2 separate regions of the Homo sapiens genome follow, and region 1 is linked to region 2. Evidence: fine-mapped expression QTL. A gene starts in region 2. The other region holds a variant in brackets. All regions are shown on one strand. Distances are between the middles of the regions.

Region 1 (2,910 bases), 780 kb before region 2:
TCTCCCATGTCACCCTCCTGAGTAGCTGGGACTACAGGTACCATGCCTGGCTAATTTCTAATATTTTTTGTAGAGGTGGGGGTCTCACTGTGTTACCCAGCGTGGTCTTGAACTCCTAGCCTCAAACAATCATCCTGCCTCAGCCTCCCAAAGTGCTGGGATTGCAGGCGTGAGCCACCATGCCCGGCCCGTATACTATTTTTCAACAACTCTTTCTGAGTGTCTTGAGTTGCAGGGAAATTAGGTATCCTGAGAGTAAAACTACCTTATTTTGGGCATCCTACTTGGGTGCAACGAAGTGACAGAGGCAGACGTTTGTGGCCCTTGCATCCTAGGTGGTTTTGATGCCACGAATCAATCCCTTTAAAAACCTGTGTGCTGGCACCTTGCTAGAAAGGGTTGGCAGTAACTAAGATTAATGGCTGCCATTTGTTAAGCACTTACTGTGTGCCAGGCATTGTGCAAAGTTCTCTACCTACAATTCTCCTAGGAGGTGAAGGAAAGTATTATGTCTCCTCCCCATTTTACAGATGAAGAAACTGAGGCCCAAAGTAGGCAAGTGACTTGGAGACAGTCACACAGCCAGCAAACAGAAGAGCCTGAATTCCAGCCCAAGAGCCACACTCTTCCCTACCGGAGCTTCTCACAGTTGGGTTACCACTTACGGGCGGAAATGGGAGGCTGGAGTTCAGGGGTCTTTTACATATTTCTGTATTTTTTTTCCACCATGAACATGTTTGATTTTTATAATACTAAACAAACAAACAAAAACCAAAATAAAGCCCAACCGACATCATCCAAAATAACAAGAAAAACAACAAACACCACTGTATATCTTGGTGCCCATTAAATTTTCCTTTAAATATATTGCGTGCAGCCAAGCTTCTTTCAATTCCCCTCTCCATGCACACACCAGGGCTAGCTTCTGTCGACAGTTTCGTGTATATTCTTGCAGATTTTTCTCCTATCAAATGCTAATATATATGCAGATGTATAATTTTATGAGGCTTTTAAAGTCATACATATTTTCAATATTTGATTTTTAAAAATCAATAGAAAATGTATTGCTTTGGTGATTGGGAAGAGAATAAAGATATTAAAAATTAACTCAAATTGAAAAACAACCTTGGATTGGATGTTTTGAAGTTGCAAAGTCAAAGTTCTATTCCAGAAAGTTCCGCACCAGCGAAGCTGG[A/G]TTCCCCACAGAGATGCTCAGATCCCCATGGCTTGCTGTTGCATTTGGCTCGGGGCTAGGGGAGGGGGATGCCTCTAATTCCCACCAGCTTGCCTTGCCACCCCCTCCCCACTGCCCCTGGTCAATGAGCATTGTGTTCAGTTTGTCGACTCAGCAAAACAGGCCCGCCTACTCCCTCCCTGCTCCAATTGGAAGGTGATTGCCTACCAGCCAATTAATTCTGCTTTAATTGCTCAGGCTCTAAAACGCAGGCCTGAACAGCTAATCTGGTGGGGGGGGGGTGGGGGGAGGGTGGTGGTTTGCCTGGCAGATGCTGCCCAACCAGCTCTTGGGAGATGCTCAGAGAGTCAGAAAAAAAACAATGATTCTCTGCAGGGCCCTTGGGCATTCTGGAGGGGAGGGGCCTGTAGCCATTGGAAGTGTGGCTCAGAAAATGGGCCCAAGACATGGCCACCAGCAAGAGCCAAAAAGAGAAGTAGAAAGGGGTGCATCTAGTCTTAGTTCACTGGCTCACTGTGGGAATTTGTCACAATCTGACATGATCTTGTTAATATCAGCTGCCTTTCTTGTTCAGGGCTGTAGCCAGTGCCCACCCACTGCCTGGCATATAGTAGGTGTTCAATAAATAGTGTTTGATTCAATAAACATATTCCACCCTGTCCTATCACCTCCTGCCTGCAACTACCATTGAAGTCTCCAAAGAATTGCAAGAGATAAATGCGAGAAACTGAGGCCCAGAGAAGGGAGGGGCTTGGTTTGTTCAGGCCAGTGCCTGACTCAAGCTGCCTTTCCACTTTGCTCCACATGAACTGTCCTTTTTCCAAAGCATCCTCACTCATTGTTGTGGGAGGGCTGCACAGGAGAGGAGCAAGAAGCTCCTCACTACTTTCTTTTGAAATCTGCATCTGTATTAAACACCCCCTTGACCTCGAAGCCGGCTCATTACACACCGAGTTCTCTGCTCCTCCGTCTGTGCCTGGGGGGTAACTCGGAACTGGCTCTCCTGGGGACCAGCAGCTCCAGCCCTGGAGAGGAAAATGATATGTATCTAATCTCTGACCTTCAAATGAGGACAGGGATTAATCAAGGATTTAGATGGAGGGGTGGGAGGCTGTGCAAGGAAGTGAGGGTGGGTGGCGGGCACCTCTGATTCCGTCCTCACCTCAAGCCATTGCTGGCTGCTGCAGATGCCCTCCAGGCTGGGGGAGCGATGGGCAGGAGGAAAGGGGGCTCTGGGAAGGACGAAATTGAAAGCTGAGGCAGGAGGAAGGCAGGGTGGGGAAAAGAACAAAGCAGGCAGGCATCAGAGGGCAGGAAAGCCAATAGACAAGCATGCCAGCCCATGGGGTGGAGGAACGCGCAGGAGGAAACAGGCAAAGGAAAAACAAAGAAGAGGAAGAGAGAAAGGCTAACAAGGAACTAAATAGGGCCTGAAACAAAGCCAAGGAGGAAACAAAAGGTAAGGAAAAAAACAAAAAACAAAAAACAAACAAAAAAACCAGCAGGCAGAGGAAGAAGCAGCAACAGAGAGAGAAGGGAGAAGGCTGGGGAGGCCTCCGGAATGTCATCTGCTCATGCTGAGGCAGAGACCTCGGCAAACAGCATGCCCCCAGCCTTGCCCAGGTCCCTCACTCCATCCCTGGTACCCACGGGCTCCCAGGAGCCTTTGGGGCAGACAGCTGGGCTTCCTCCTGCCTCCCCAGCCCAGCCTGCTC
Region 2 (2,910 bases):
GAGCTTAAAAATAATCGCAGGTGCTTTTTATTCAGGCTGAGCCAAATGGTCAGCAACTTTCTCTTCAGAGGTAAACTCTGGGACATTACTGCCTCTTGACCCTAATTCTAGGGGAGAGGAGCACACAAAATTAATCTAATTTCTCCCCTTGTGACGGCCCTTCGGATGCTGATCTTAAGTGCTAACTAAAGCTGTTATTTATTGAGCCTAAACAAAACTGCGAATAAAGATAATAATACTAAATAACAATAATAAGTAACATTTATTGAGTGTTTCCTCTGTATTAGGCACTCTCTATGTACTTTCTAAGGTACAGAGCAAGGTATGTGAGAATCTGGGCTGGGATAAGCAACAAGCATAATGGAAAGCTGGAAGCACTGGTTTTTGTCACAAAGACCTGGGTTTGAAATCTGGTTCCACACATTTTCTTTGTCTCTTTGAGAATCAGTGAGCTACCAGGGTCCTAGTATGCCTGCAATGTTTAACATAAAGTGTGTAGAATGATTAAGCTAATGTCAGGCACATAGCAGCTGCCTGATGATAGCAGTCACGTGTTCATGTTGCTTCCCTCGTGTCACCACCACCAATAATATCAACATCGGCATAATATTAATAGCAAACACTGGCACAGTGCTTACCACGTGCCAGAAAATGGTTTCCGTTTACTAATTCATTGAATCCTCAAAACAAACCTACGTATGTACTATTTTCATCCCCATCTCACAGATGAGAAAACTGAGGCACAGAGATTATAAATTGTCCAAGGTCACGCAGCTGTAACCGTAATAAAAGGAAAGACGACCTTTAACTGAGCGCTTACTATAATCCACATCTTTAATGAGCTCGTTACCTACGTTAACTCTTCACAATAACTCCTTAAAGGGTGTGCATTATATCTCCACTCTACAGATGGGGAGACTGTGGCTCAGAATTGCCCATGGGCGCAAAGATTCCATCAGGGCCGAGCCTGCACTCACTCAGCCTCCCAGATGCGACGAAGCACGACTCCGCTGTCAGACTCGAACTCCGCCTCGGGGCCCCGGGGCGCCGCCTCTCTCCCCCGGGGCGCCGCCTCTCTCCCCCGGGGCGCCGCCTCCCTCCGCCGCGGCCGTCGAGCCGCGGAGCGCCTCTTCCGCGGAGCCGCCGCCTGCCAGGATTCCAGCGCCGCAGCTGCGGCCGCAGCCATTGGTCTCTGACGTCAGCGGCGTGCGGCGCACTCGGCACGTCATCGCCGCGCGCCGGCTTGCCAGGAGCTGGAGGGGGAGGTAGGCGGGGCGGCGCGTGACCTAAGGCCTCTCTGCCGCGCGCGCAGGTACGGGGCAGAAGTCGCAGGTACCCAGCTGCTGCCCACATTTCTGGTCCAGAGTCCCGAACCCCGAGCACTGGGATGCCTGGCTACTCCGGTGGGTGGGCGGCGCTCGGAGCGCGGGGATACCGAGGGGCGGGCCCCCAGCTTAGAGCGTGACCCGACCCCGCCTAATCCTTAGGCGTTCGCCCACCATTTCCCAGTCCCGTAGAGCTGGGGCCAGACACCGCACAGCCCTAGTGCTGTTACCAGTCGCTGCCTGCGCCCCGGGGGCTGCGCCCAGCAGCTTCCTGGCCCTTTTCCAGCCATTAGCGTCCGTTTTCCAGCCCTGCTGCCCCACTGAGGCCCCTTCCCACAGCAGTATCACCAGCCCCAGCCCCGCGTTGTTACTATTACTTCCCAGGCTACCAGATCCTTTTCTGCTCATGTTCCGACGTCTCTTCCTACTCCAGGGCCATTATTGGTCTCTTCTGGACCTTTCAGAGATAAGAGAGGACCTCGGTAGTGTAGGGCCCAGTCCTCTGGGAACAAGGGATGGGGAGTTTTAGGCTGCTGTCCTTGGTTCCAGTAACAGAGATACCCCCTCCACAGGCACCCAAATATGCTCCATAGAATACAATGAGTGTGGTCCTGTGGAGGCCCAATCCAAAATATCTAGAGCTGAGAAGAGATAGAGATTTTACAGGCCGTCAAATATTCAATGGGGGTCGTCTCTAGAGACTTTTAACAAACTGTATTGTGTACCCACAGATTGCAGAATGGTGAGCAAACATTTGAGACCATGTTGCTAAAGCATTAAGCTTGGAGAAAGTGACAGTAAGAATTAGACAATAGTTTTGAAGTGACCAAGAGGTTGTCACATGGAAGAATTAGACCTTGTTTTGTGTTTTCCTGCAGAGCGTTATCCAGACTAGCGAGTGGGAGGCAGATGTAAAATCTGGAACGCAGATTTTAGTTTGTTGGAAGGAGAAATGTAACATAGTGAACCACGCATCTCTGGAGGGTGTAAAGCAGAGACAGCCAAGGTAATTTTTGGAAAAGAGTGCAGGAGAGTAGAGTAAACGATGCCAGGGTTCCTTCCGACTCTGAAATTCCGTGATACACTGAGCTGTCTTTCTCTTGTGGAAGTTTGAAAGCCATTTGATAAAGTTCTCTTCATTTTTTAGAAATTTGCCCTGCTCTGGAATTCTGCATGTTCAGGTTACTTTTGGACTGTCAAGATGACAGTTCCTTAATTTGGGTTCCATTATTACCACAGCAACTGGTTTATTTGTATAGCTGTCCACACCTAGAGCATTTTCACCCTGTCATTTGATTTTATCTTCCGTGAAGCTTGTGGTGTGTTTCCCTTAACTGTTCGAGAAACTAAAGCCCTTACTCTGAAGTCTCTGCAAGCCTCCCTCTTTGATTTTGAAGCATGATTGTCACCCTCACAGAAAGCTCTTTTGAAATATACCATTCGTTTAATCCTGCTGGGTCACATGCTCTCTCACGAGTTGCTGAAATATCTATTCCTTGTGTTTATTTCAGAGCCAAGGCACTGATGTTTGAACTGGAAACTTCAAAACGTTTAATAAGAGTCTTCAGGATGGGTTTGAACTAGA

Evidence for each region. PIP is the estimated chance that this variant, and not a neighbour inherited with it, causes the effect.
Region 1: its variant is fine-mapped to the expression of HPS4 in caudate (GTEx, PIP above 0.99).

Annotation. Positions count from the first base shown.
Region 1 is chr22:27,258,949-27,261,858 of GRCh38, reverse strand. No RefSeq gene overlaps it. Among named protein-coding and RNA genes, the nearest start is that of LINC01638, 36 kb to the right of the region's middle. RefSeq lists enhancers at 1,889-2,389, 2,390-2,890. The variant A/G (reference allele first, on the strand shown) is at 1,196.
Region 2 is chr22:26,482,167-26,485,076 of GRCh38, reverse strand. HPS4 (HPS4 biogenesis of lysosomal organelles complex 3 subunit 2) reads left to right here and starts at 1,294. Exons shown (of 14, transcript NM_022081.6): 1 at 1,294-1,403; 2 at 2,837-2,910. It overlaps SRRD (SRR1 domain containing), which reads right to left and starts at 1,200. Exons shown (of 7, transcript NM_001013694.3): 1 at 978-1,200. The coding sequence starts at 1,186. RefSeq lists a silencer at 1,017-1,106 and an enhancer at 1,127-1,246.